Homo sapiens: one gene and its partners. The protein of the gene in region 1 purifies or fractionates together with the protein of each later gene. This does not show direct contact. Each region holds a gene or a part of one and is shown in the gene's direction. Other genes may lie near its edges.

Region 1 (4,499 bases):
CTGACTCAGTATCTCCGTCATTTCATTTTGTAGATCAGAAAGTGGACAGAGGTAGTGACTTGCTCAGGGTCACACTGTCCCTTTGTGGTTGGGTTTGGTTCACTGGCACCCAGTGCTCTTTATCTGCAGTCCTCTTAATCAGTGGAGAGAATATGAAGATTGAGTCAACAATGTGATACGCCTTGATCCTTGAGTACTTTTCTATTTCATTGATTTTCCACAGCATATCTTGAAGAGATCCAGTCTGTTCGACGCCATACAAATAGCACAAGTGATCCCCAAAGCCCCAACCCTCCGTTGTTGGTCCACTGCAGTGCTGGGGTAGGAAGGACTGGCGTGGTGATTTTGTCGGAGATCATGATCGCCTGCCTGGAACACAATGAGGTGATGGCGCTTATGATCACCTGGCCTTTTTGGGTGGAAATGAGGCTGGGGAAGAGAGGGACATAGTGACTTAATAGCTCTTTTTGCGCACATTTCCTTGGACTGTGGTGGCCTCAAGATGTTACTAATGTTCCCTGCAAAAGGCTGTGTCTTCTTGGAGAGTCTCAGTACCAATTAGCATATTAAAGACTAAGAAGTCATACGATAAATAAAGCTGTTTAATTTTGTTTTACTTGCCCAGGGTTTTTCAAATTTGAGCTCAGAATTCTTTTTCTGTTTACATTTCAAGGATGATTCATGCTGCCCAGAGCCCTTGAGGGAAATAGCTAGATACTGATAGCACTTAGCACACTATGTTTTTGTATAATTTTGGTATTTAGTGAGACATGGTAATTATGTCCAACCATACAAAGTCAGTGAGCTACACCTGGGGAATGTTGAAGAAATAGTCTGCATGGACATTCTATTTATAGCTAAAACTAATCAGAAAATCAGAAGTAGGCAATCATGGCTTATTTCTAGAAGACGCTAAGGTGGAAAAGAGACTGTCCATCTCCCAACCAGGTTTCTGCCAGGACACTCGTGTCCTCCCATCCTTTCTGTCTCCCCAGGGGAACACATTATCTTCATTACCGTTTCTCTCAACCTAGGTGCTGGACATCCCGAGAGTGCTGGACATGCTGAGGCAACAGAGAATGATGCTGGTGCAGACTCTCTGCCAGTACACATTTGTGTACAGAGTCCTCATCCAGTTCCTGAAAAGCTCCAGGCTCATCTAAGCTCCCACAATTTCTTACGGGGCCAGTCATGTGAAGCGTTTACAGCTTAAAAAAAAAGCGCTTGCCTAACTCATACTTTCCCGTTGACACTTGATCCACGCAGCGTGGCACTGGGACGTAAGTGGCGCAGTCTGAATGGCGGCACGCTGAAGGAAACGTGCGAAGCACAGGCTGAAGAGGGGTTTCTAACCTGGGAAAGGTGCTCAAGGAGGACTTGGTTTCAAGGGCCTTGCCCTGCCCCGGTCTGTCCGGTTTGCAGTACTTGCACACATTTTGGAGATTGTATTTTCTAGACAATTCTCTATTTTACTGAAGCTATGCTGGGCAATTCTGGCAATCATTAAAGTGCATAGATTTCTATCTTAAACTAATTTTTGATAATGGAGTTTTTATTTTATGACAAATATTTAGGGATTTTTCTAGTGAGAAACAACTTTGTGTAAGGATGATCCACAGATATGAGTTGCTCCTATATAACTTTGTATTTAAAAATCATGTTATTATCTTTTGTTATTTTTTAAAAACCTTGGGTACTTAATAATGGTTTAGTTGCCAAACTGAAAACTATACTGAGAATCTGTGTTATTTTGAAACATCAAAAGGATTTTTCTATCCAGAACATTTTTTATCCTAAAAATTCTATATAGTTGTACCTTCTGTTTTTCAAATGAGAGCTCAATTCATTTAGATACTGAAATGAGTCAGTTAATGTAAAGTTGAGGATGAAGGCACATTATTTAAAATGTAAGAGAATAAGCATTATTTTTTCAGTATTATTCATAGATCTAAATGAATTTGATTTTATTGGTTGAAAATGAAGTGAAAAACAATTGCCTAGGGTGGTTTTAAGCACTTTTTTGTTAAAAACAAATCTGAGTTTTAATATATGTGTTGCTTTGTAGATGACACAATAACAATGGGCGCTGAGAAGCGTTTTGGGAGAGATTAAGGACTAAGAGTATGTAAGATGACTAGGACAAGAGTAGGTGGAGTGTGATGGTAAATGCAGGATGCCTTCGTCTTTACAAAAATGCAGTATTATCTATACTCAGACTGAGGTGCTGGGATGGCGAGCAGGGGACCCCACAGCACTGTCCCCAGGGAATTCAAGTCCTGTGACCGCCAGTGACTTACTCCGTTTCCTTGGGGCTTTTCCCACCTCAACCTGTATTGTTTCTTTTTCATAAATAAATTCAGCATTATAGTATCATTAAAAGAAGCCTTAAAGAGGCGTATTTTTCCTTTTGGTTGAAGGAAGGGAATAGTTAATAATAGTTTTCACCTCTTCTCCCAAAAAGTACAGTCCAAATTTGTGCACAGAGATTGCTGTGGTATTCAAGAGGTACTTGCATTTTAGCTCCTTAATAATTCCCTGGCCAGTGTTAGCTGTTTAGTGCCCCCTCACCCATCCCATTTAGGCACATCCCAATAGACAGAGCCAGGCTGAGTTACAGGGGGAGAGTGTCATCTCTGGCCCCGATTAAGATGGCCTTGTCACAGTGACCGCTGAGTAGGCATGGATGAGTGGGATATTTAGCTGAGGAACCCTTTCCCTTTTCCTTCTTTTTGGGGTCTCTTCTTACAGTGAACTTCCAAAATGTCAAATCTAGGGCTGTTTCCCAAATTACACTATTCTAGGCATCATTTTGATTCCCATGTCACTCCTTAACTCACTTCCTTGAGCACTACATGTATGTTGTCAGCCACGAGACAGGACTTCCTAAATAGTGTGTGCACCAGCCTAACTCTGCCTTACCCAGAAACCAACCACCTAAGAGGAAAACTCAGAAGATATTAATGAAAACTAATTGAAAGTACGCACACTTCTCATGTAGGAACAAAATTAAAATTTTACATTTTTATTTTACAAAATTAAAAAATTACATTTTGTAGGAACAAAATGTAAATTTTGTAAATACAAAATTCTTTTTAAAGTCCTGTTTAAAGAACAGTAGAACTAAGTGAAAATATTCAGAACGAGCTCCTTAGAAGAAAGGAATAAGAACTTTTTACTGGAACTATTTTCCATCTCTAGAAAAAGTGCTTCTTCCCCTCCCCCTCCCTCTCCATGGTACGTTTTTGTGAAAATGCTTTTCTGTCAGGTTTAAACAAACAGTTTGACATAGCTCGTTGACAAGAACATATTGTAAAACAAATCTAATTAAAGAGTAATATGTGGTCTATTTGTGTTCCTGTTGTAATAATTTGATAAGTAAACTTCTGAGGGCAAAATTACTGTTTAATATTACTCTTAAAATGTTGCATGTTTGGCGTCATTCCTAAGAGCCATGTAATTTTAAACTTTTAATTGCAGTTAGTGAATATGAAAGGATTTCTGAATAAAAATCTATCCACATTACTGAGCTTTGAAATAGTATCATTTTCAAGAGCAAACTAGAACATTAAGGGTTCATAGGTTTACTGCCTCTGAAATGAGTATATTAATGTCTGCCAAACTTACACAATGCTTCATGTATCTTAGTGTCTTTTAATAAGAATTATCAAAATGTGCACTTCCACAAAACGTAGAGTTATAAACCACTGTTTTCCACTGATCAATTTTGGTATCTCTGGTATCAGTTTTCCTGATTAGTGGGGTCTTTTGATGAAATAGTTTAGCTTAGTTGGTAGTTTTGAGCACAGAAAGTACTCATTTTATTTTTTATTTTTGAGACGGAGTCTTGCTCTATTGCCCAGGCTACAGTGCAGTGGCATGATCTCGGCTCACTGCAACCTCTGCCTCCTGGGTTCGAGTGATTCTCCTGCCTCAGCCTCCTGAGTAGCTGGGATTACAGGCATGCACCACTATGCCCGGCTAATTTTTGTATTTTTAGTGGAGACGGGGTTTCACCATGTTGGCCAGGCTGGTCTCCAACTCCTGACCTCAAGTGATCTGTCTGCCTCGGCCTCCCAAAGTGCTGGGATTACAGGCGTGAGCCACTGTGTCCAGCCAGAAAGTCCTCATTTTAGAATATCATTTGGAATGCTTATTGTAGTCATTAATTTCTTCTGGAACATCTACTGTGAAGCATTCAGAAAATGCTAGAACTTAGACTTTAAAACCCTTTGGTCGAATTAGAAGCTGGGCCTGTGCTTCCTTAGAAACGTCCAGAAAGCAATGTCTAGCCAGAAACAGGAGGAGGAGGGAGGAGAGTGTGGTGTTGTGGGACTGAGTGGCGACAGCATGACGTGGCCAGCTTTTCTGTGAAGCTTTCACCATCAGTCATTTCAGAAGGGTTGAGATGTTAAATGTTCACAATATTAAGAAAATTTAAATATACAACTATGTACAGTAATATAAACTGGAGATTAGCTGCAGCTTGCCAAGAGCAGGTT
Region 2 (8,933 bases), on another chromosome or scaffold:
GGGGAAGCAAACATGTCCTTCCTCATGTGGCAACAGGAGGCAGAAGAATGAGTGCCCAGTGAAGGGGAAAGACCCTTATAAAACCATCAGATCTCATGAGAACTAACTCACTATCACAAGAACAGGTGGGGGGAGATCGCCCCCATGGTTCAATTAGCTCCACCTGGTCCCTCCTGTTACATGTGTGGATTATGGGAACTGCAATTCAAGATGAGATTTGGGTGGGGACACAGCCAAACCATATCAGGAACGTTTACAAGATTTGCGGTATGACATAGCATACTATGCTTCTGGAATATGAATTTGGTCACTGGGTAGAATGTAACATCAAATTGAAAAACTGGGAGAGTGTTAGAGACCACCAAATCTAAGAACCCAATTGAATAGATAAAGAAACTCAGAATAGAGAGGAAGTGACTTGCCAAAAGGTTGCACAGTAATTTAGGGTAAGGCAAGGACCATAAACATTTCTCTCTTGTGTCCCTCTCCATGCTAGTTTGTTTGTTTGTTTGTTTGTTTGAGACAGAGTCTTGCTCTGTCAACCAGGCTAGAGTGCATTTGGTTGCAAGTGCCAGGTACTGCCTTGGCTGCTGGGGAAGAGAAATGAACAAGACATGAAGACGACTATAAAGAATCCTATATTTGCATGGAGGAGATCAAACACACTTATGAAAAATCAGTGATCTTCGCTCACCGGAACCACCACCTCCCAGGTTCAAGTGATACTTGTGCTCCAACCTTCCGAGTAGGTGGGATTATAGACGTGTACTACCATGCCCTGCTAATTTTTGTATTTTTAGTAGAGACGAGGTTTCACATGTTGGCCAGGCTGGTCTCAAACTCCCAACCACAGGTGATCCGCCTGGCTCGGCCTCCCAAAGTGTTGGGATTACGGGCGTGAGCCACCGCACCTGGCCCCCATGCTAGTCTTGATTGCTACTTCCAAATGCCTGGGCAACTCTCATTGGTCTGCTTGCATTCAGGCCCCGTCACTTGAAGTTATCTGAAAGAGAAGGCTGAGGACTCCCGAGGGAAAAGGGAAGATATGCAAACAGAGATAAGCAGGGAGAGGTAAGATGTGCTTGGAAAACTACTAGAAGGAGGGTGGAGGGTGGGGGCACATAAAGGCCTGGAAGAAATGAGGCTGAAGGGACAAGTAGGTGCCAAATTATGAAGGTCCGTGCAAACCATACTAGAGGCATTTGGCCTGATAGGTTTTAGGCTCTCAGAGGCAACAGCAGATGGGTATTTACCTTCTATCACCCATGGCCCTCTTATTCTTATTATTTTTCTAATAGCCTCTTCAGAACTTTTCCTCTTGCTCAGCTGTAGGAGATCATAAGTTCCCTACGCTTGAGTGTTCAAACTGAGAGCAGATGGTCACTCAACAGTGGGTGAGCAAGGTGCCAGGTTGCCAGGGATCAGTGTGGAATCTTAGCTTACCTACCCTCAGCTGAGTAAGAGCTTACTCAGCTTGGGGCCGGGTGCAGTGGCTCATGCCTGTAATCCCAGCACTTTGGGAGGCCGAGGAGGGCAGATCACGTGGTCAGGAGATCGAACCATCCTGGCTAACCTGGTGAAACCCCCGTCTCTACTAAAAATACAAAAAAAAAAAAAAAAAAAATTAGCCGGGCGTGGTGGCGAATGCCTGTAGTCCCAGCTACTCAGGAGGCTGAGGCAGGAGAATGGTGTGAACCCAGGAGGTGGAGCTTGAAGTGAGCAGAGATCACGTCACTGCACTCCAGCCTGGGCGACAGAGCAAGACTCCACCTCAAAAAAAGAAAAAAAAAAAAAAAAATGAGCTTACTCAGCTCTTAACACAGAGCTAGTACTTAAACTCCCTGGGCTTTAGGGCTTTAGTTTCTTCATGGATAAAATAAAAAAATAATAATGCCAACCTCAGAAGGGGTCTTGTGAGAGTTAAGTGAAATGTATATGAAAACTCCAAATAAGGACTGGCATGAGCTACACAAAGGCCACGTGTACAGGACTGTAATGGATGCAAACGAAAGGCAGGACCCAAGCCCAGCTTGCCTAAAAGTCTTTTATGCCATTACTGAACCCATGAAAATGCTGCTGGTAGCCTTTAGGCCACCAGTGTGCTATCCTTGGCCCAAACGACCCCACACTACACCTGAAATTCTGTGTTTTAGCCTCTGAATTGGTAAACCAGTATTTTTCTACCACTGAGTGCAAATTCATACAACCTTTCCATTTCACGCAAGCGCCTGCACGTAGAAAGTTGTAACAGGAGGTTGAGAAAAGTAAGAGTACGAAAGAAACCAGAACAGTAAATGGGAATGAGGCTTTTGGTAGGGTTAGCACTGACGACAACACTGTATGCAGTTCACTAAGCATCCAGATTATGACTTGGGTGGTTGTACTCTTGGGAAGTTCCTCATGAGTCAGAATTATCTTTTGTAGTTAACTTTATATGATGTTCATGCTAACACCATGCTCACCATGCTCACCTGAGCAATTCATAAACATTTCAGGAGGAGAAACACAGTGACTTCCCCAACACACCCATACAACAGTTTCAACATAATTAGTAGCATTTCTGGATCCGGCACAGTACTCTTATAATGTATATGATGGAAGAAATGAACAACTCTAATTACACCTTATTAAATCTTAATCCTCATTAGGACCCTATTATTCCTTATAAGTGAGTTACTGAAGGAAAAAAAAAAAGGAAATGCTGGTCAAGTCCCGTTATATTCCATGAGGATTGAGATAATCCATTTTTACTTCATGTAACACTGGAATTCTTTTCATACTAAACAGTAGTACTCAGAATGTGAGTACGCTGAAATGTTTGAGTGAGTGGATTGTGTTTTGATAGGATCTGACCTTTTCAGAACCCCAGAAAAAACTCTCTCCAAGAGCCCGTATCTCCCATTTCAAACTATGTTAGTTGCAAAGAGATAAATTCTTTATTAGTCTGTGGAATGGGTGGTTATTCTCGACCTTATCTCTCTGTTACTGCCTTCATATATATATATGTATGTGTGTATATATATATGTGTGTGTGTATATATATATGTATATATATGTGTATATATATGTATATATATGTGTATATATGTATATATATGTGTATATATATGTGTTTGTATATATATATATTTTTTTTTTTTGACAACAGTCTTGCTCTGTCCCCCAGGCTGGAGTGCAGTGGCGCAATCTCGGCTCACTAAAACCTTTGCCTCCCGGGTTCAGGCAATTCTCCTGCCTCAGCTTCCGGAATACCTGGGATTACAGGCGCTCGCCGCCACGCCCAGCTAGTTTTTTGTATTTTTGGTAGAGATGGGGTTTTGCCATGTTGGCCAGGCTGGCTCGAGCTCCTGACCTCAGGTGATTTGCCCGCCTCGGCGTCCCAAAGTGCTGGAATTACAGGTGTAAGCCACCGCGCCCAGCCATGTTCATATTTTTGTATGTGTACATTAGATAGTTGAGAGGAACACAGAGGTTAAGTAGTCTTACCCCTGAAATGTCTGAATTCAAACACTTATTAAGCACAAGGAAGGTGCTTAATAAATCCAATAACATGTGTTTTTACATTATTTCCTTAATTCCTGGTCAAAAGAATCCCACTAAAGTCCATCCTCAGAAGAACCACTTTTTGGAGTTTTTATGAATCAGTAGCTCATGGTGTACTCTCAACAGTTATGAATGGAATTAGGTCCTGCTAGAGGTCAGGGCCAGGTATGGAAAGATGAAGGGATTAGTCAGGAGACCTGGATGGGAGGAGGGGAAGACAGGTGCTTGGTCAGTCAGTTGTTTTGTGTTGGGCGAGTAACGTTTCTTAAGTTTTTGTCTGAGGTGTAAAGGGGGGACTACGCTCTGTCCTATCTAACTCACCTGAAGATGCAATAGCCGGGTGAGAGACTGCTTTCATTATGTGCTAACGTGAGGGATTACTTTAGATATTAATAGGAGAGAAGTGCAAGGAAAGGAAGTCTCAGGGTATGGAATGCTTTCCTGGCCATGGCTGCTGCGCGTCATAATCCCCTAACACAGTTAAGTGGTGGTTCTCATCGTCGTTCACCCTTACAGATGTCAGAGGGGAAAGAAAAATCCAACTCAAAACTTCCAATGACAGGCTTGTCTGTATTCAAACCAGTTCATCTCGTTCGCAGACTTTTTTGAAGCTATAAGCACAGAGCAAGCTTTCTGGGCGGGGCTCAGAAGTAAACGTTAAACTCCAGGGATTCATTTATTTGAGCACAGGACAGAGGAAGTTGCCCTGAAGCAACTGATTGTCATTGATATTCAGGGCTCGCTGTCAACCAGGACCTTCCAGGAACTGGCTCTGGGCCAAGAGCAGTAGAAATCACTGGGTGGTCCGCACAGCTCGCGGGCATCTAACCTGCTTCAAGGCTCAGGGCTAAAAGGGAGCCAGGGCCCTTCCTGGAGGCGGGAACCCAAGTGGGAGGCAGAGCGCCTGGGCCCGCTCCTCGATCTGCTGAGTGACGACCCTGTACAAGTCATTTCTCTTCCGAGAGCTTCAGTTTCCTCACGTGCCAAGCGGACGGGTTGGAAGTTGGTCTTTGCCAGCTCTGACACCTTGTAAGTTTTGAGTCTTGCTGGGAATCCAGGGCGGGGCTCACGAGGAAAATCTTGGAAGGGGATTTCATGGCTGGATCTCTTCCACTCAAGCTCAGTGCCCTAATTTGACGCCTTAATAGTAGACGCAGGCTTTTCCATTTTCCAGGAGCCCCCTGACGCGGCCGCTTCCTCCTACGTCTCCTTCCTCTTCCTCTAGCAGGGGCAAAGTCTCCACATCTCCCTCTTTCTCTTCCTCCTTTGCAAGCTCCCTGCATTCCCGCGTCTCCTCCTCTTCCTCCCAGGAAATGCAATGCCCTCAGTGCGCCCACCTTTTGGCAAAGCCACTGCCGGCTGCGGGTTTCCCCTCCCCCGCCAGGCGAGCTCTGCGCGGCGGCTTCGCGGGCACACGCCTTCCCATACCTTACATGGACAAATGCGTGCAGGCAAAGTCAGGAATTCAGGCCCCTGACGTCAGCCTCCAGCGCTCAGGGCACCGCACGGGAGACCAAGGGGAGGGGGTGGGGACGGTGGGGAGGAAGGAGGGGGAAAGGCACCAACCAGCAGCCGCTCCAGCCCTGCCGAAGTTTCACTTTTTGTCTGTGGGTTCGTTCCCGGGTCCCGCGCGAGCTTTCCCGGGATAAGTAGCTTTAGCGATCGGGAGACAGCCGGGCGCTGCAAGGTAAGGGCTGGCTGCACGGCCCGGGGCGCGGGGCGTGGGGCGCTGGGCGCGGGCGGCGCGCTCGAGGAGGCCAGTGTGGGGCGCGGGGCCGGGCCTGTCCGGGGCTGGGGACAATGGGAGGGGGAGTGCCCGGGCACCTCCTCCTCTGCCTCTGCCTCCGCCTCCAGCCGCCGCCGCCGCCGCCGCCGCCGCCACCACCACCGCCGCTGCCCCGGCTGCCTCCTCCCTGAGGTATTGTTGCAAATCCTTCCTTCCCCTCACCCTCCACCCGCGGGCGCCTCGGGAACCCCCAGCCCTCCCCCGGCGCGAGCGCCTCCGGGGTGGCAAGAGCGCAGGGCGCGCGCCCTGCTCTGGCCTGGCCCGCTGTGCGGAAGTGCCGGCCGCGGCCCAATCACGGGGTGCACGCCATGGGGGAGGGGGACCCAGAGTTTTTCCAAAAGCGTCGACCCCAGGCTAGGCGGGGTTGGAGCCTTGCGCGCCCCCTGCCCGGACTTTTCTGGGCGCCCAGGGGGCGGGGCCACGCCCATCCGCTTAGAGCTTTCGCGGAATCACAGTTGTCACAGCGGAAAGGGCCTAGACCCAGTCCTCCAAGTCCTCCCATTTTACAGTTGGGGCAGCTGAGGCCCAGAGAGAAGGAGGGTCGCCCGGAAGTTATTTACTAGAGGCCAGACCATAATTCAAATAGTTGGCTCCGGACTTAAGTTCCCTTTCTCTAAGCATTTCTCTAGCACCCTGTGTGTGGCAGACCCTGTGCTGGGTGTATTGGACGTTGCCCTCAAGGAACTCAGTTGAACCTGGGAGTCAAACCTGGCCTAGGGTAGAAAATGCTAAGTGCTGGAGCAAAGGCGTGGACAAAGTTAAAGGAAGTTCCAGGGAGGGGGTTTGATTTTCTGGTCCCTGGGACGGCCTTTTGGAGAGTCCTGCACTGAATGGGGTTTTTGGAGGTTGAGGAGTTTCCTGAAGCCAGCTAGCGGCTTGGAGGAAGACATCTCTTCGAGGGAACCGTGGGCCAGAGAAGACTAAGTAGTGTGGGAAATGGAGATGAAAGTATAAATATTCTTTAGTTGGAGGCAAGGGGTTGGGGATGGGGGAGGTTGTGATATGAGATGAGCTAATCAGTGGAATTGTGCCTGGGTGCTTGGACAGGGCAGAGTCTTTGGAACCTCGGAGTCGTAGGAGAACTGAAAAATCTCTCTGGCTTCCCTTCCCTTAGAAGGGATCCACTGCTTTCCCTCCCCCAACACAAAACAACTAGCGAGAACTCAGGGTCTTCTCTGGGGCTTTTGCTAGTACCAAACTCACTTAACTGTGTTTCCAGTCCCCTTTCTCTTTCCATTCCTTCCCCTTTTACTAAATCTCTTGCCTTTCCTGTAAAATTCACTCTCACTAAGGTGTTGATGACTTAATGGCTTACCTTTCCCTGCACATGTGCATTTTAAGAAAGCCTAAAGTGAAGAAGGGGAAAGTGTGGCTAGGCACCTTTACAAAGCATCTAGCTCCCTCTCCCATCCTCCCCCTTCCTCAACTCTTATAGATAGAAGAATAGGTAAAGGTCCACGAAGGTGGGTGCTAGACCTAGAGCCTATGGTCAATAATGGTGGACAGTGGGGGGTTAGGACATCCAATATGGTTTTCTCCACTTCGTCACCAGTTTTTCTGCTTGCACAGTTCCTGCCAGCACCAGGGGGCAGTTAAAGGAAAAAGTGTGTGGGCCAGGCACGGTGGCTCACGCCTGTAATCCCAGCACTTTGGGAGGCCAAGGCGGGCGGATTGCCTGAGCTCAGGAGTTAGAAACCAGCCTGGGCAACATGGCAAAACCCTGTCTCTACTAAAAATACAAAAAATTAGCTGGGTGTGGTGGCGGGGAACTGTAGTCCCAGCTACTCGGGAGGCTGAGGCAGGAGAATCGCTTGAACCCGGGAGGCAGAGGTTGCAGTGAGTTGAGATCACACCACTGCACTCTAGCCTGGGCGACAGAGGGAGACTGCCTCTCAAAAAAAACAAAAAACAACAACAACAAACAAAGGAGAGTGTGCATTTTTGCATTTAATTTCTACAATGCAGGCCCCAACCCCAACACCCAAAACTTTATAGTCTAGAATGTAGGCTCCAGAGGGGATTACCTATTCTGAATGGTAGGGGTAAAAGCCTGGGGCCTTAGGGTCTGGCAGTCCCCCCAGAGGCAGGCTCTCTGTAAGCAGCATGGGTCTAGAGTTGGTTTTGAGTGTACGCAGAGGGAGGAGAAGCTGAGCTGATGAGCTGATTGCTGTGGCTGGGACTTGAGTAGGATCTTTCTTAGAGTGACACATTCTGGTGAAGACAGTTCCAGGAAATGATGGACGGGAGAGGAAACTTGGTTATAAAGGGGCTTAAAAATGCCAGGCTAAGGAGTTTGGATATATCTTAAATTCATCATTTGAGGGTTTTGAGCAGGCTGAGACATGATTTAGAGGGGAGGTACTGGCATCGAGAAGCCCCCTGCTGCCCAATTCCAATGAGAGAGGTAATAATTTGGCCTAAGAATATTATTGGCTTGGCACGATGGCTCAAGCCTGTAATGCCAGCACTTTGGGAGGCTCGAGGCAGGTGGATCACCTGAGGTCAGGAGTTTAAGACAGCCTGGCCAACATCGTGAAACCCCGTCTCTACTAAAAATACAAAAATTAGCCGGGTGTGGTGGCATGTGCCTGTAGTAGTACCAGCTGCTTGGGAGGCTGCGGCAGGAGAATCACTTGAACCTGGGAAGAGGAGGTTGCAGTGAGCCGAGATTGCACCATTGCACTCTAGCCTGGGTGACAGAGTGAGACTCCATTTCCTCTGCTGCGCCCCACCCCCCCAAGAAAAATAATATTATCAATTGGTTCTTGTTCATTTACTCGACATAGGTTACTGAATACCTATTACGTACCATTGGCAAATATGAAAATTTTATAGCAGATTCCTGTATTTTATTGAGACAAATACGTTGTATCGAATCAATTGTAAAACACACTTTTTTCACATTTTAATATCACTGAAATGTGGTTGTCTTATTACAATGTACCATAGTTGTGCAGTTGTTTTTCATCCTAAGTTGGTAATGGCACATCTTATAGTTGATGGCTTAAATCTGATAAAATTGTTCATCATGTCGTTTATGAATGTACAGTGCTTTGCACTTTATAAAACACTTTCCAATCAGATACTCCATTTGAATCTCAAAGGTCCCCTGAGAATGAGGCCTGCTGCTGCTGTCACCTTTATTTTAACCCTTGCCCAAGGTCATATAGCTAATTAGGGATGTGTTCAAAATTACAACCCAGAACTTTTGCTTCTTGGTGGTGACGTGTGACTTTACCCTGCTGTTGAGCCAGTCTGGGTTAATTGGGAATGGGGCAAGAGTTAGATCGGATTTGATTTCAGAACTATGCTGAAGATGCTGGATGATGGGGATTTTGTACACGGGTAGAGTGTAACTCATAAGAACTGTGTAGCCCCCTTAGCACAGATATTTGCTGCATTAAGCAGAAAAAAGACAGGGAGATAGAAAATGGCAGGTAGCAGGTAAAACCCGGGGTTGGAGCCTGCTTACGGTGAACCAGAAACTGGCTTGGCCCTGAGCGTACAAAGATGAGGTGTACATGGTCCCTGCCTTTGAGGAGCACACAAGTGTGTGGTGTGTGTGAGGGGGAGGGAAAAAGGTGGAGTGGGGCATGTCCGTGTA
Region 3 (8,769 bases), on another chromosome or scaffold:
AAACTTTTTTTTAATTTTTTTTTTTTTTTTTTTTTTTTGCTTTAGCATTTAGAGGTGGTTGGAATTTGGTGGAACCGTCTGTCTTCCATAGAGAGTGTATCAAAATTGGGAGTTCAGGCTCCCCGAATCCCAAAGTGTTGGGATTACAGTCGCTGACGCCTGTAATCCCAACACTTTGGAAGGCCAAAGCAGGCAGATCGCCTAAGACCAGGAGTTCAAGACCAGCCTGGGCAATATGGCAAAACCCCATCTCTACAACAAAATAATAATTCAAAAATTAGCTGGGTATGGTGGCACATGCCTGTAGTTCCAGTATTTGGGAGGCGGAGGTGGGAGGATCACCAGAACCCGAAGTGGTCGAGGCTGCAGTGAGCCATGATTGTGCCACTGCACTCCAGCCTGGATGAGTGAGACCCTGCCTCAAAAACAAAACAAAATTGGGAGTCGCAAAGGCAGTTTCCTGGTTCCTGAACCTGCCTTTCCATTTTCCTTCCCTAGCTGTGAATACGGCCCAGGGGTGTGGCCTGAAAGTGGCCTGTGTCTCAGCCGCCGTATCGGACGAGTCAGTGGCTGGAGACAGTGGTGTGTACGAGGCTTCCGTGCAGAGGTAGGTGTCTGGGTGCTGGCTCTCTCTGTGGCCCTGTAAGCCATGAACTCTGAATATCCAGAGCCTAGGCCTGTGGAGAGGCTTAGGTTTTGGCCCCCACAGTGTGTGGGAGGAGCCCCAAGAGGGCATGACCCCACCTTCCTCTTGGCTGCCCAAGGCACAGACAGCATAACTTTTCCTGGGGTTAGAGATGCTTCAGGTTTGGGGGAGTGCTAGTTCTGTGGTAGCTACGAAAAAGGTATATGGCTAAGGAGCAAGCACTAGAGAAAGGGAAGGCCCCTTAAGAGAGGAGTCCAAGCTGGGCATAGTGGTGTGAGTCTGTAATCCCAGCTACTTGGGAGGCTTCAGTGGGAGGATCACTTGATACAAGGAGTTCGAGACCAGCCTGGGCAACATAGTGAGCCCCCATCTCTAAAAAAAATTTTTTTTAATTAAAATTTAAAAAAGGACCTGAAGGGAAGCTGAGCAAACCCCAACTTTCCTTCCTGGGGATGTAACCTCAGCCTCCCAGAATAGTTTGTTCACTGTAGGGAAGCCTAACTCCTCCTCCCCTGTTGCCTTTCAGACTGGGTGCTTCAGAAGCTGCTGCATTTGACAGTGACGAATCGGAAGCAGTGGGTGCGACCCGAATTCAGATTGCCCTGAAGTAAGTGACGAGGACGAGGAGGACAGAAGGAACGGTCTGTGTGGGGTCCCTTCTTCATCCACAGCGTTCCCCAGCATTTACCTTCACAGCCGCCCAGGGTGGAAGGCAGCACCAGCAGGACCTGCTGGCCATTGCAGCTTCTTAACTGAAGGGATGCTGATTCGTTCCTCACCTCCCAGCCATCCGCTTTACAGATAGGAGAAATGAGGTTGGAGAAATGGGGTTTTAAAAGACCTTATGACTTGGCCCAACTCACTGAGCTGGCTGGTAGCAGAGCCAGGACTGGGACTGAGACCTCCTGCCTCTCAGTGTGTTTGTTCATTGTTGCTGTGGCTTTTGTCTTTCCATCCCATCTAGGTTTCATTGATCTGGATGGAAGTTGATCACTGGGGGCTGCAGCCCAGATTGGGTCAATACACACATGGTTGTTCTTTTTGTTTTCTTTTGTTGGGGGATGATATGATCTCAATTTTTTTTTTTTTTTTTTTTTGAGACAGGGTCTCACCTGTCACCCAGGCTGGAGTGCAGTGGTGTGATCTCAGCTCGCTGCAACCTCTGCCTCCTGGGTTCAAGCGATTCTCCTGCCTCAGCCTCCCAAGTAGCTGGGATTACAGGTGTGTGCCACCACGCCCGGCTAACTTTTGTATTTTTAATAGAGATGGAGTTTCACCATGTTGGCCAGGCTAGTCTCAAACTCCTGACCTCAAATGATCTGCCCGCCTTGGCCTCCCAAAGTGCTGAGATTACAGGCATGAGCCACCACACCTGGCCTTCAATATTTTTTAATAGGAATTAGTTGACAACATTTCCATATCATGAAATTTCACCCGCATTTATGGGTTCTTTTTAAAAATTCAGACAACTGGCTGGGTGTGGTGGCTCACACCTTTAATCCTGACACTTTGGGAGGCTGAGGCAGAGGAATCACTTGATTCCAGGAGTTCAGGACCAGCCCAGGCAACATGATGAAACCCCATCTCTACTAAAAATACACAAAATTAGCTGGGTGTGGTGGTGAACACCTGTAGTCCTAGCTACTTGAGAGGCTGAGGTGGGAGGATCACCTGAGCCTGGGAGGTCGAGGCTACCATGAGCCCCGATCATGCCACTGCACTCAACCTGGATGACAGAGTGAGACCCTGTTTCAAAACAAAAAAAAAATTTTCAAACAATTGGCAGCTCTAGCTCTACATCCCTGCATGGCAGCAAAGCACTGGGCCTGTGCTCTAGAGCTCACCATAGGCCCCAGGGCAGCCAACAGCCACGTCCTGTGACTTTTAATGGAGAGAAGGAATGAGAGAGATGAGTGTGTTACTAATAGGTACTTCATATGCCCCTTTTCATTTCAGGTATGATGAGAAGAATAAGCAATTTGCAATATTAATCATCCAGCTGAGTAACCTTTCTGCTCTGTTGCAGCAACAAGACCAGAAAGTGTGAGTATGTAGCTGGACAGGTGTATTTCATACCCTAACCCTCTGGAGTTACCCCTGGGGGTCACTTTTCTGCCCTGTCCTGATCCAGTTATGGGCCTTGTCAAGGCACTGTGGGTTTGTACTGCATATGACTGTGATGCTGAATGTCGGTGCTGTGCATGTGAATACAGGCACAACGGCAAGCACACCAACTGTAAAGACAAGCACTCTCTAGATGACTGTGTGAATTCCTGCCCCATTACGTGCTGAGCACCTGCTGCATGCCAGCTCTAGGAATGGGGTGGTGAGCAGATCCTTCCTGGGCCCTACCCTCCTGGACTTTGAGCCTCATGGAGAAGAATGGTCACAGTCTGTTTTATCTTCTCCTAAGCTCAAGTGTTTCTTGCAGAGAGAGATAGGTCTTCTGTTTCCAAGAGTCAACACCAGTCACTGCTTCTCTTGGAGGGGTGTGACTGCGTGTTACCTTGATGCTGGTAGGATGCAAACACCTGCTCTGTCTGCCTGTGGGCTCCTCCCATGGTAGATGGGTTTATCCTTTATTGCACTCATCTGCCTCCAAGTTTTCTCTGATCGTAAGGCCTGGAGGGTGGCAACAGAAGCTTATGTGTCTGTGGTCTACACTCAGCCAGCCTGTGAGGGTGGCACATGTGGGAAGAAGAAAGGGCAGGAAGGCGGACAAAACGGAAGGAAGACAAGATGGGATGCTTGGGTCAATTTCAGTCTTCTGCCCACACAGACAGTGCCAGGCTGAATAGCCTCCTCCATAGCTCACTGGTACTCATGCAGGGGCATCTGTGGGATAATGCCTAGAAGTGAAGGGTCTGGACCAAAGGACAAATGCATCTGGAATTTTGTTCGATTTGTCAAAGTTCCTTCCAGTGTATAGGGGCCTGATTCCCCAGATTCCTCACTTCTACAAACTCTCATCCACTGTTGTTTGCTTAGGGATTTCAGCAGCTGTTTAGTCCAACATTTTAGCCCCAGACATGGGCTGACCCAAGATTTCCTGCGGTTCTGTCTCCCTCTAGGAATATCCGCGTGGCTGTCCTTCCTTGCTCTGAAAGCACAACCTGCCTGTTCCGGACCCGGCCTCTGGACGCCTCAGACACTCTAGTGTTCAATGAGGTGTTCTGGGTATCCATGTCCTATCCAGCCCTTCACCAGAAGACCTTAAGAGTCGATGTCTGTACCACCGACAGGAGCCATCTGGAAGAGTGCCTGGTAAGGGCCGTGTCTGGCTGGCTGGCTGGCTGGCTGGCTGGCTGGCTGGCTGGCTGGCTGACCGGCCTTCTGTGTTTATGGGGATTGGTCTACCCTGAGCTTCAGGAAGAAGGTTCGAAGGAGACGCAGGTTGTGCTATCAATCAGGCTCATCTTGGATTCTAGGCAGCGAGGCTTCCACAGGTGAATGTTGTTCTCAGACTTAGGGTGGGAGGGAAGGAGCTCTTTCACAAGAGGAAGAGTAATGGACCTGAAAGTGCCTTTTAAAACTGCCAGAACCTGGAAAAAGCCACATACTGCAGCTTTACTATACAGCATGAGAGATTAGATAAGAAGCACAGACTATGGCTGTGTGGTGGCTTATATCTGTAATCCCAACCCTTTGGGAGGCCAAGGCCAGAGGATCACTCAAGTGCAGGAGTTCGAAAGCAGCCTGGGCAACACAGCAAGACCCCATCTCTACAAAAAATAAAATTAGCCAGGCATAGTGGTGCATGCTTGTAGTCCTAGCTACTCTGGAGGTTGAGATGGGAGGATCCCTTGAGCTGCAATGAGCTGATCATGCCGCAGCATTCTGGCCTGGGCAACAGCAGAACCCTGTGTCAAAAAAAAAAAAAAAAAAAGCACAGAGTAATGAAAGCAAACACATAGGCATTCACATCCCACCTTTACCACTTGCTGTATAGCTGGATGACCTTGGGCAAGGTACTTAACATCTCTGATCCTCATTTTTCTTATCCCTAAAATGCAAATGATAATGCCTCCATCATGCCCACTGGAAGAATCTTTATAAGGATTGAGATAGCACCCGTAAAACACCTATTCAAGTGTCTGATCCACAGTGGGTTCTCGTTTAGTGGGGCCATTGCCAGCCTCCTCCCTGAAACTGACCTTCTCCGGCTTCCATCTCTCACTGCATTGGCAGGAGTCAGGACTGGGGATGAAGTAGCCCAAGTACATTTTGTCCTAAGAGACAGGCAGACCCAAGTGCAGACAGATACTCAGCTTTCCCATCTGTAGAAGGGGGATTTATATAATAGCTAACTCGGGCTTGTGATGTACAAGTGAATTAGAAGAAGTAAAGGGCTTTGTTAACCCTGATGCCATTTAGTGTTAGAATATTTTAATGATAACTCAACTGTGGGCACAAAGGAGCCCAAGTGTGGGCATTATACCTAGAAGGTCGCTCCACTCATGCTCAGATCTGTACTGGGAGCTTGTTGTGTCCCCACCCCTGTGTCTGGGGCTGGGGATTCAATGGGGAACCAAACAGACAAGGTGCCAGCATTGATGGCTAAGATGTAAACAAACTGTGAGGAGGGCCGTGTTGGAAATGGATGGGTTGAAGTGATGGAGGAAAATGTGGGGTATGTGCAAAGGGGAAAAACAAGATGTATACACCTCTCCGAGCCTCTCCTGCCTCCATTTCTGGAAGCTGGAATGTAGAGCCTCTCACTGCCTTCTTGGAGGGCTCGCCCCTTTCTCCTGCTGTAAATCACAGACCTTTGCCCAGAGAAGGGAATCTCTTTGCTCTCCATCCTTGCCTTGATCTGCATGCGCTATAAAACCCTTCTCTATCATGGCATTGTGGGGCCACATCCTTGGATTGTGGCCTGGGGCTGTCACCAGCCTTGCCCTTCCAGCTGTGTCTCCTCACAGTCTTCAATTCTTAGTCTCAGTTCCCTTATCTGTAAAATCTGGCTCATACTGCCTTCCTGGAGGTGGTTCTCTGAAGACTAACTAAGGCGCTGAAGCAGCGCTTCAAACTGTGCCATGCACACAAGTTACCTGGAGCTCTGGCTAAATGCAGATTCTGATTCAGCAAGTCTGGAGCAGAACCTGAGATTCTGCATTTCTAATAAGCTCCCAGGTGAGGCCAATGCTGCTGGTTCCTGGATCACACTTTGGGTAGCAAGAATGTAGAGCAGCAAAGTGTTTGCAGTTTGTGCTCACTGGATATCGGTTCCCATCTCTCCTTCTTAGCTGGGTACAACACAGCATCACTGCTATTGATGTTGTTACTGACAATAATGCAGTAGTTAATACCAGTAGGTTGCAGTTTATATGGCAGGCACTGAGTTAAGCTCTTTACATGCATTATCTGTTTTTTTTATTTTAGACTGAGTCCTGCTCTCAGTCTCTGGAGTGCAGTGGCGTGATCTTGGCTCACTGAAACCTTCACCTCCTAGATTCAAGCAATTCTCCTGCCTTAGACTCCAGAGTAGCTGGGACTACAAGCGCCCACCACCACACCCGGCTAATTTTTGTATTTTTAGTAGAGGCGGGGTTTTGCCATGTTGGCCAGGCTGATCTTGAACTCCTGACCTCAAGTGATCCGCCTGTCTCCACCTCCCAAAGTTCTGGGATTACAGGTGTGAGCCACCACCCCAGCCCATTATCTCTATTGATCCTCACTCCAACCTTGCAAAATAGGTAGCGTATTCCAGTGGAGAAACTGAGGCACAAAGAGGTGAAAGACCTTTCCTGTCACAGTTAGGAAAGTGGCAGAAGCCGTATTTGAACCCCAGCAGGTCTCCCTCTGAAGTCCACACACGTCAGCGCCTCTGTGTTGTCTCTTTGCCAGCACAGGGCTCCCTGGAGCCCAGAGATGGGGGTGGTGACTTGAAGGGGTTGGCAAGCCTGGGCTCCTCCAGCGAAGCATTCCCTTGGCCCTGGGCATTCCTAAGCGAGAAGAGGCTCAATCCTATTTTCTTCTCCTAATTGGATGCCTTTTATTCCTCCTTCCTAATTGAAGTCTGGTCATTGCTGGTTGCCATGGCAGCAGCCAAAGCGCTCATCTCACTGTGGCTTGTCTCTGCCTGCGGCCAATGGGAAACCTCCTTTCCCATATACGGTGGGGACATGGAGTGTCAGGCTGTCGTATTCTGGTGGCTGGAGGAGGAGAGGAAGTGAGATGGGAGGAAAAAGGCCTGTCCTCTCCCACGCAGAGACTCCGGACAGCAGGATGTGTGGAATCCCCAGTCTGTTTTCAGCCAGGCAGCAACAGCATCTGTACTGAGTTGAGTCTATGTGTCTACCAGTGGGCTAAGAACTTCATGTGCAGTATCTCATTTAATCTTCGTGATGGCCCCAGGAAGATAAGGGATCAAGGCCCAGAAAGGCTAAGTAAGCTGCCAGGTCATCCAAGGAGAAAATGGCAAAGCCTGGATTTGAACAGAGACTCCAGCTTCCTTATGTGTAGCCATCTCACCATGCTACTTCTCAGGGGGTTACTATGAGTGTCTCTCATGTCCCCAGACCCAGATTACAGGTTTGGAGGAATACACAGCCCACCTTCCCAATATCGCAGGCAACAGTTCCACCAAATGCCCTGCATGGCATCACAGGGAGCCTAGTTGCCCACTGCTCTACTGCTGAGCTCAATGCCACCCAGCCCGGGCTCTCTCGAGCTAGCCTGCTTCTCAGGCCCCACTGACGTCCCATGGTTCACCATTACAACCGTTCCCTTGCCTCCTCTCACTTTGGCATACTAACTTGGCAAAACCCAGCCCTGTCAAAGTGAACTCTCCACCCCCTCCTCTCCAACTGAGCAACTGGAAAAAAAAATGCACACAACCACGCTGTATGGTATCATTTGGAAATGGTGATCACTCACTTCCCATGAGCCCTCAATGCTGCCCAGAAATTATACTGTATCTCCCTGGACCATTTACTCACCCACTCATCACAATGACTAATTCATACTTCTCTCAGGGAGAGAAGAGAGGACAGACTCAGAAGAGGGCCCCCACACCATATCTGGCTGTTCTTGTAGGTTCTGCCATTTCCCTGGCTTCTGAGGGTGGGCCTTCTGCACTCCTGTCTGAGGCCACCACCCCCATTTTCTCGCAAGGACATTACTCCAGCAGCCATTCCGCTCTTTCCTCTATCTTCAATTTTCCCTCCTCCACTGGATCCAGCCTATCAGTATATCATCATGCTGTTATTTCTCCCATGCTCAAAACAAAACAAAAAAATTTTTTTTGACAGAGGATCTTGCTTTGTTGCCCAGGCTGGAGTGCAGTGCTGTGAACTCAGCTCACAGCAGCCTTGACCTTCTGGGCTCAAGTGATCCTCCCACTTCAGCCTCTCCCATAGCTGGGACTACAGGCACATGCCACCATGGCCGGCTAATTTTTGTATTTTTTGTAGAGATGGGGTCTCACTATGTTGCCCAGGCTGGTCTTGAACTCCTGGGCTCAGGCAGTCCTCCCGCCTCAGCCTCTCAAAGGGCTGGGGTTTACAGGCGTGAGCCACCACACCCGACCTAAAACTTTTTTCACCCCATTTCCACTTCCAACTACTACATTGTTTCTTTCCCTTTCTTTATAGAAAAACTTGAAAGAGGTGTTCCCTTCCTCTCTGTAACCCAATCCATGTGGACTTTGGCCCTCATCTTTCTTTTTTCTTTTTTTTTATTTTTGAGACAGAGTCTGTTGCCCAGACTGAAGGGCAATGGCGTGATCTTGGCTCACTGCAACCTCCGCTTCCCGGGTCCAAACCATTCTCCTGCCTCAGCCTCCCAAGTAGCTGGGACTATAGGCACGCGCCACCACACCTGGCTAATTTTTGTATTTTTATTAGAGATGGGGTTTCCCCATGTTGGCCACGCTGGTCTCAAACTTCTGACCTCAAGCGATCCACCCACCTTTTCCTCCGAAAGTGGTGGGATTACAGACGTGAGCCACCGTGCCTGGCCTGGCCCTCATCTTTGTACCGAGGGTGTGCTCTTCATGTTCCTCAGGGAGCTCCTTGTTACCAGACCAGAGGCCAGCTCTCCATCTTCCTTCTGGACCTGCCAGCTACATTTGCCACAGTTGCTGACTCCACCTCCTTCAAAATCCTTTGCCCTTGCTTGGC
Region 4 (8,769 bases), on another chromosome or scaffold:
CCTGGGCCTGTGGGAGGGCCCATGAGACATTTGTGTGGTTTGTGCGCCCTCTCCTGGGGAGATGTCAAAGCTACAAGTAGCAGGTTATGGAAATAACCACAAAGAAAATAACCAGGGGAATGGTGTGTGTACATAATGGCCCCAACAAAACAGAAAGCCGCGTGGGGCCTTCACCACTGCTTCTGGGAAGGAGTACGGTGTGTGTGCGTGCGTGCGTGCGTGTGTGTGTGTGTGTTAGGGGGTGCATACCACTCCTGGAACCAGCCAAGCCTCCACTCACATTTTAGTCACCAACGTGTTTGGGTAAGCACACTACCCAATCTCTCAGGATTATGATTCCTTATCTGCAAAATGGGGTTGCTACAGTAATCCTTGTGTCAGGCTGAAGGATTTAATGCAGTGATAACATGTGAAGCACTTAACCGTGTCTGGCACTCAGCACACAGTTCATGGTAATTATTAGTACTCTGTGACAGTGATGATGATAAGTAATAAACTCTGGCTAAACACAGTTCTTACTGTAAACCATGGAAAGCTATGAGAAGAAGAAAGAGAAGAAAATGGAATGTTCTGTGCCAGCGTTCCTTCCTGTGCTTTGAACTTACATCTTTTGACCTTTCAAGGTAGTTTTGCTCTTCCTGTATTTGGAGTGGTATCTAGTGACCACTTCTAACATTCAGCCAATTTGGAGGGGCAGTAAGTGAGGCTGGATGCTGGAGAAGAGGGGAGAGAGTGATGAGGGAAAAAGTTGCCTAAAGTCTGTCACCCACCCAGTAACCCTGAGGTCTGGGAGTCCTGTCTTGCAAGTGTGTCTGGTTGGCCCATGCCTTGCTCCTGACACTTGGGTCTTGCTGTGTCTGAAAAGTTTGTGGATGGAGACAGTATCTCTGAACCTTTGTGAAACAGTTTTTAACTTTTTAAATGCATATATTAGAAAACTGCTGTTAAAAAGTTACCCTAAGAGAAAATACATCCAAGAGCTTTGATTGCAGATAATATTCAGTTGCATGTCTGAAAACAAGTGAAAGCGTATATTTAACCATAAAGGCTAATTCTCACAAATTAGCTGGGCATGGTGGTAGACATCTGTAGTCCCAGGAGGCTGAGGCAGGAGGATGTCAAGGCTGCGACGAGCTGAGATTGCACCACTGCACTCCAGCCTAGGTGACAGGAGTGAGACCTTGTCTCAAAAAAAGGAAAGATGAATTATCTTCAAGTCACCAGCACTTTTTTTCAGGGGACGTCTGCCCTGCATGTGGGGTGGTGGCTCCCTATCAGGGACGTTTGTCATCTCCCTCAGTGCTCTAGAGGCTTAGGCAGGTAAAGTCAAGTCCCTTTTACGTAAACTTTGCTGTCCAGTGCCAGTCCCTGCTGGATGACACCAACCACGTTGGAATAACTGCAAAGGCCTTCCGCAGTCAGTCACTGTCATTGTCAAAGTCAATTTCAGGCTGCTGTGGTTATTCCTGGGGGTAATCAATAAATCATGTCATCACCTTCACCCTTCACAAAGGGGGGTGGGCGGAGAGAAGGCACTTCATCATCAAGGAAAAAGCATTCCCACTGCCAGAAATAAAGTGGAAAATGCAGCAATCAATCCTGTAATCTGAAGCCTTAAAACTTAAACATCTTCACAAGATGTAAAGTCACGGCTCAGAAGGGGGCCAAAATGCATACCAATACAGATCCCTGCGCTCACTCTCACTCACTGGAGGATGAAAGAGCACCACAGGCTTGCAGCTCATTACAGTACAGAGCACAGCCTTAAATGAATGTTCCTTGCTCACTGCAGGATGCTGGTGTATGAATATGAGTTCGAGATAAAAGTTAAGTGGTCATTGGTACTAAAGATTCAGTAGCACAAAAAGTTTTTTAATGGTATTGGCTGGTGAGGAGTTCCTGTGAGTCAAAGACATTTTTTCTTTATTTCTGTTAGAATAGTAGCACAGGAGATGTAGGATATGGCATGTGGAGAGAAGGGGAGACCAAAAGAGGTGGAAACTTATCCATTGAGTAGCTAGAAGCTCTCTCTGTGATAGAAATGTCACTTGAGGGAGATAGATCATTTCCTATTCCTGAATATATGAACACTGCAGTGAATGCTTGAAAGAAAGAGACTAAGGACCAATGAGAATTTGTGTAATTCATCCCTTCCCTTAAAATATTTCAGGACAAAGAAAAACCATATTCTCTTCCAAGTAATGACTGAAAAAACTGGCGTCCCAGGAATCTTATAAGTCATAGTGCCTTGAGTTGTTTACAGCTGTAGATTTGAATATTAACATCCTTGACTCCCAGAAGGAAATCTTATTTTGGATTGCTCATGACCAAACTATGTATGTATTTAATACTTAACTTTTCCAAATAAGACATTCTGATTAGTGCTCTCACCCTCCCCTCCATAGATGTGGAAAAATCATTACCAAAAAGAAGAGTGATCCACTTGCTTGGGGAGAAAACCACTTGTGTGTCGGCTGCTGTGTCTGATGAGTCTGTGGCTGGAGACAGTGGGGTCTATGAAGCTTTCGTGAAACAGTAAGGATTCAGCAGGGGCGCTTTTAGCTCCAGCGAATCTCCATCGCCGTGGATGTGGGTTATATGCTGTAAATGGACTGCTACCATTAGTCCGCTCTTTGGCTTAGTAAGGACTTTAGCCGTTAAAGAAGTGGTGTGCCTGAAAAGTTCAGTATATCAAAAATGACTTAGCCATGGAAATTATCGATAAACAGATTGGTGTACCCAGAGGCAATTGACCCTCTTTAGAATTTAAAAACCTTGAATTTAGTGGGAATATTGGAAGAATTCACCAGACCCTGTTTGGCACATGAAGCTTCTCACGTGTATTTCTGAAAGTCTGAAATGTCTCAAGGGTGTGGTATATTTCTAGTAATAAGGAAAGTAGTCATCAGAGAGGCTTTGCCCTAAAGCCCAGAGGCGGGCTCTTCTTGAAAAGAGCCTCTGAAACAGTAAGCTTTCGCTGGGATCAGTTCCACTGGGAGGGCATAGGAGTGCTGTTAATTTGGATTTTCATTCAGAATCACTAAGTGGCAAACTGTTAACCATAACAATCGATAACCCCATTAATTAACTGTTCATCTACTCCCTGTCCATATAGACCTAGTGAAATGGAAGATGTCACATACAGTGAAGAGGATGTAGCCATTGTAGAGACCGCCCAGGTTCAGATAGGACTCAGGTAAGGAATGTACGTGGGAAAGGAGCAGTTCTGACATCTGTGCAGGGCAAGTGGCCTGTGGTGATTCCTGACTTCATTTAGCCTCTCTTTTGACAGATACAATGCAAAAAGTTCAAGTTTCATGGTGATTATAGCACAGCTCCGAAACCTTCATGCCTTCTTGATACCTCATACTTCAAAAGTGTAAGTAAAATCAGCGAAGATCAAATTGAGGAACTTAAACATTTCCATGTAAGAGAATTTTACACTGTAATCATACAGTTCATCAAAATGAAGATACGGAAAAGACATAGCAGGGCTGATCATGTCTAAATGAATGGCAGATAAAGATGAGAAGGGAAATGTGAGGAAGACATATTGAGTTTTAATTCTTACTCAACTGATTCTTTCTAAGAGTAGAAGCCAAGACATTTAATCTCTTTTTTGTAACCAGAAGCACTGTTTTATGCTGTGTTGGAATTTGATTGAAATATGGGTAAAATTTTTGTTTTTGTGTAATTGTTACTACTGTTGTTTAAGGAATTTTCTAATCTTTTACATTAAAATGTAGTGATTAAATTTTATGTATCTGTACAACATTGCCAGTCAAACATTTTATCATGCTACATGTAAGAGTATGTTTTTATCATCAAGCATTTACTTCCCTGTGACCAGTGAGTTCTTAAAGTTATTTCACTTCATCAAACCAAGAATCCCAACAAAGTGATGACATAATGCTACACAGTCCATTGCTTAGAGACTTTTTGCTTCCTGACAGATAAGCCTAAAGATCTCATGACAAATAAGTCTGGAAGTCTTAGACACCACCATTCACATTTTCTGACATCAGAGTTTCAGTGACTCTGAAGGGCTCATGGCTGGAAAGTACCAGGAAGAATCCAGACTTCGACTTAGCACTATGACGTAGAATCCGGAATATGCATGTCCACTCTGCATTGAAACTTCCTGTAAGAAGTGGATCTTAATAATATTTTGAATATGCAGTGCAAGGCTTTGGAAATTTAAAAAGAGCTGTTGAGGGGTGATCCCCAAGACTCTATACCCAGCCAGGTGAATGTTTTCCTTAATGATAGAGTATATTCCTTAGTGATAAGACTTTTAATAGAATAAATTAAAGAGTTCTGCATGTTTTTCCTACAGAGTTGCTTGTAAGTTCACCTCCTAACATTCCAATAATCATCAGAAAGAAGAAACTGGATCTAAGAGAAAAAGAACTAGATAGAAATTATGTAGTTGACAATAGAAGAATAGAGATAGTGGCTTTCTTTTTTTTTTTTTAAGAGATGGGGTCTCACTGGGTTGCCCAGGCTGGTCTTGAACTCCCTGGGCTCTCCCACCTTGGTCTCCCAAAGTGCTGGGATTACAGGCGTGAGCCACCGAGCCCAGCCAAGATAGTAGATTTTAATGTGTTGACAAGCATCAAAGCTGGAGGTAGGATAGGATTCCAGGAGGAGGGTGAGCTTAGAGAACTTCCTGAATCAAAGTGTGGACTGTCCACATCATTAGTGAGACCAGTGAGGAGAGCAGGCATCACATAGAAGTGCCTAGATCAACGCAGAGAGCCTGCTTCCCAAATGCGAGATGAAAAACACCAGTCAGCGGTGTCCAGGAAGACTGGCTTGATATAAACTGTGACTTCTCCCTACCAGTAGATAAGCTGTGATGTTGGAGCATGCCATTGGTGGCCTTTTAGTAAAGCAAATCATGGAGAAGACAAGTCTACCAGAGACTGAAACAATAAACAGTGAGAACTAATGCACAACTTCAGGAGAAAACTACAGAACACCCCAAGAACACACACCTTCTTTAAACTCACTGTAAGGGTGCACCTGCAATATGCTCTACTTCAACTAAACCAATCACAGTCATTCTCACTTACCTCATAGGATGTCACCAAGTCCCTTCTGGAGGCATGGTGATACCTGCGTAGTGTAGGACCAGTGAAATACTCAGCCCAACCAATGAGCAGACATTTGCTCTTCGGCTCCCCAGCTAATGTGCAGGCACTTGTTGAGTTGGTGCGAACCTTCCTGACATATATAGCAATCTTTCCTTAAACCCACATGTAAAAGCCTTGGCCTAAATAATGACACTGCTAAACATGACAGCTAGTATGAAATATTCTTAAAATTGTTCTTTTTTTTCCCAACCTCAAAAGTTATTTTTTGATTATTAATTGTGACAAGCAGAAAAGATTTTCTTCTGCTGAATCTTCGGCCTCCCAGGGACAGTGAGCTGTGTCTTAGTAAGGCTCTTTAATCAACAGCAGTGGGCTTCAGGCCCACTAGGTTTTCATTGCTGAATCTCCATAATTAATATTGATATGAAATACAAAATAATATGACATTCCTCAGTTCTGCATTTGAATTACAGTTTTTCTAACGGAGAAAGGCATGTTTTAGAATCTAGATTAGACAAGCCTGGAAATGGGGGTGGAGGGGATAGACTTAGCGGTATTCTCTTCCTGGGATTTAAAGGAAGTTACCTCACGCTCTTTCTAAGAATTGTGGGTCCTCATACAATGTGTGCTCAGAAGAGTCACTTTAAGGTAGTATTAGAAGTTATTGTTTTTCTATAACTCTTCCTCTGAATTTTACAAAGCACGGGACTCTTAAAACAGTTTGTCGTATCTCAGAATTTGGAGATGCTAGACAGTGATATTTTTGAACCGTTGTTTCATCTGTTTTAAATTTTCTTAACAATATGCTACTGAGCCTTTCTTTTTCTCTAGTAGGATAATGTATTCCATTCCTGGGAGGTGATCATCAGCATCTCTTGTTTAATACTCAGGATGAGGATTCTGTGAGATAAAGTCACCAGTATCTACTTAGTGTGTTCCCACCTTCCCAGGCTCAGAAATAACTTATTTTGGAATTGGCTGTCCATGGGGCAGGTGGGACGTTAAATTCGTCTGCCCTACGGATTTTCTTCCTCTTCACTTTCCTATCATGTGCCTTTGCTGCAGTCTCGTGGTGAGTGGAGGCTGGGCCATTGCATGCTCAGGGGCGTAGTCAGCTCGGGTGGGTTAAGGACAGAGCATCTATGCAGCTGAGCACGGACCCGTGATGGCAGCAACACTTTAGATTGATCTTGAACTCCACGATCCCTCATTTTCTCTCTTTGCAGATAATTTCAAATGATAGCTGTGAATCTGGTATAATTAAAGTACCTATGAAATCCATTTTATTCTTGTTCTTTGCAGATATTTTAGGGTTGCCGTTCTTCCTTCCTCAACTGATGTCAGCTGTCTGTTTCGCACAAAAGTTCATCCGCCCACAGAATCCATTTTATTCAATGATGTGTTCAGAGTCGCCATTTCCCAAACAGCCTTACAACAGAAGACACTGAGGGTAGACCTTTGCTCTGTCAGTAAACACCGAAGGGAAGAATGCCTGGTAGGATTCTTCATAATTCCCATTACCAAATAGCACTTAGATTGGGTGGTCTGAGGATATACTTTGTAGTTGCTATTTTGCCAGCCCTAGAAATCACTACAGACCTGCCCAACATCTTGGGATACATCTAGTGTTTGTTCATTTTTTTCTGAAGTAGTGGTTTCTGTTTATTCTCTTATTCCAGACCTTTAAAATCTGCTTATAAATTGTGATTTTCTGTAAAAGTTGCTTTCTATTTCTACCTTTTCACCACAGAAGAACTTTACCTTTGTGACAGCTATCACTCATGGAGTGTGCTTACCACTCCCAGTACCAATGCCAAGCTTTGCGTGACTGCTGTGTATATATTATCTCATTTAATCCTCATGACAACCTGATGAAAGATTGGTTATGAAATGGATGATTATCCACTATTTTCAGATAAGGAGCTGCTTAGAGAGGTAATATATTCAACGGTCATACAACTAGTAAGCGATGAAGCCAGATATCAAAAAGATATCCCCACATAATTACATAATTCACTGTTACAAATTAAAATTAAGCAAGACCACTGAGTACTATATAGTACCCTTATTCACCTCATTCTCCTCCACCACAGTATTGGAGCTTTCGGGAAGATGTGATGTTACTGTTTAAAGCAATATGACATTTAAATGCTACAGCAGAAGACTTCACAGTTAACTAATTGTGAGTTTAATACACTGTTGTGCGTAATAACCAGAAAACCATTATGTCCCAGTAAAGTTACATAAGTATTCAAATGCAGGCATCTAGAGATGTGCCATGTGTTCAGAAAACAATGTGAGTCTCCAATTGAGCTTTTCTCTGCAGTCCAGTGGGAAGCACAGAAACACATGTTTCATGATGAACAAAGTTTAAGAGGGGTAGGTTTCTTCTTAATTTTTCTTCTTGTTTTCTTTACTTGAAAAAAATATCTGATGATATTGTCTGACAATAAAGTTAGAAAGAAGCAGAGCTAACAGACTCGTTAGGCTATCAGAAAGGCTTTAGTATCATAGATGTCATATTTAGTATAATAGATGTCAGAGGCTCCCACAAAGTTCATAAATATTATATTGATAGCCTTAAAGAAGAGTGTAATTGAATTTAGATTTTGTCTATGTGTGATTTGGTGGAATATGGAAAGCCTTTATCCTTTACTTTTTTTGCCATTCTACTAACTTATGTATCTAAAGAAAACTGTTGCTTTTTGATGTCTTATTCAAGAACCAAAGTGGAGTTTTTATTTTTTTTTCAGTGGATAATGGGTTGTTTGTGAGTAAGTCACCTTTACAGCATATTATAAGAAGTACTATGAGGCCGGGTGTGGTGGGTCATGCCTGTAATCCTAGCACTTTGGGAGGCCGAGGCAGGCAGATCACCTGAGGTCAGGAGTTCGAGACCAGCCTGGCCAACATGGTGAAACCCTGTCTCTACTAAAAATACAAAAATTAGCTGGGTGTTGTGGTGCGCACCTGTAATCCCAGCTATTCAGGAGGCTGAGGTAGGAGAATCGCTTGAACCCAGGAGGTGGAGGTTGCAGTGAGCTGAGATCACACCACTGCACTTCAGCCTGGGAGTCAGAGCAAGACTCCATCTCAAAAATAATAACAATAATTTCACATTTACATAAAAGGCATGCTTAGTCATTAGGTCTTCGCAAAATGGTATCTCACAAACTAATCCCAGGATTAGCTTTTAGGTTGGGGGTTATTTCTTACTTAGTCACAGCTGAAAATATAACATATCCCCATGTTTTAAAAAATCCAGCAATGCTTTATGTCAGGAGAATTGTGTTTTTTTTACCCTAAAACAAGCTCATTCAATAATCTTTATTATATCAGAACAAATACTAATTTAAACATTTTATTTTCTCTTCCTTATTTTTTTTTCTTTGTTTTCTTTCACTTACATAGGCTGGAACTCAGATCAGCCTGGCAGATTTACCATTTTCCAGTGAGGTTTTCACTCTATGGTATAACTTGCTTCCTTCCAAGCAAATGCCTTGCAAAAAGAATGAAGAAAATGAGGACTCTGTATTTCAACCAAACCAGCCGTTAGTAGATTCTATAGACTTGGTGAGTCAAAATTAGAGTATAATATGAAAGTAATGTGAAATACATATATGAAATACATATATGAAAGTAATATGAAATATGGAATGCTACGAGACCAACA

Evidence for each region.
Region 2: the proteins of PTPN21 (region 1) and LPP purify together in Homo sapiens (affinity purification with mass spectrometry; 2 studies listed by BioGRID and IntAct, with this or other methods). This does not show direct contact.
Region 3: the proteins of PTPN21 (region 1) and WWC1 purify together in Homo sapiens (affinity purification with mass spectrometry; 3 studies listed by BioGRID and IntAct, with this or other methods). This does not show direct contact.
Region 4: the proteins of PTPN21 (region 1) and WWC2 purify together in Homo sapiens (affinity purification with mass spectrometry; 2 studies listed by BioGRID and IntAct, with this or other methods). This does not show direct contact.

Annotation. Positions count from the first base shown.
Region 1 is NC_000014.9:88,464,801-88,469,299, reverse strand, and holds the end of PTPN21 (tyrosine-protein phosphatase non-receptor type 21), read left to right. Parts: intron 1-223; coding exon 224-384; intron 385-1,034; coding exon 1,035-1,163; 3' UTR 1,164-3,522; downstream 3,523-4,499.
Region 2 is NC_000003.12:188,148,792-188,157,724, forward strand, and holds the start of LPP (lipoma-preferred partner), read left to right. Parts: upstream 1-5,365; 5' UTR 5,366-5,461; intron 5,462-8,933. UniProt on the Homo sapiens protein: May play a structural role at sites of cell adhesion in maintaining cell shape and motility. In addition to these structural functions, it may also be implicated in signaling events and activation of gene transcription.
Region 3 is NC_000005.10:168,427,535-168,436,303, forward strand, and holds part of WWC1 (protein KIBRA), read left to right. Parts: intron 1-498; coding exon 499-607; intron 608-1,172; coding exon 1,173-1,253; intron 1,254-2,602; coding exon 2,603-2,689; intron 2,690-3,717; coding exon 3,718-3,910; intron 3,911-8,769. UniProt on the Homo sapiens protein: Regulator of the Hippo signaling pathway, also known as the Salvador-Warts-Hippo (SWH) pathway.
Region 4 is NC_000004.12:183,262,573-183,271,341, forward strand, and holds part of WWC2 (protein WWC2), read left to right. Parts: intron 1-2,405; coding exon 2,406-2,535; intron 2,536-3,115; coding exon 3,116-3,196; intron 3,197-3,292; coding exon 3,293-3,379; intron 3,380-6,398; coding exon 6,399-6,591; intron 6,592-7,422; coding exon of another isoform or gene 7,423-7,470; exon of another isoform or gene 7,471-7,475; intron 7,476-8,507; coding exon 8,508-8,669; intron 8,670-8,769. UniProt on the Homo sapiens protein: Regulator of the Hippo signaling pathway, also known as the Salvador-Warts-Hippo (SWH) pathway.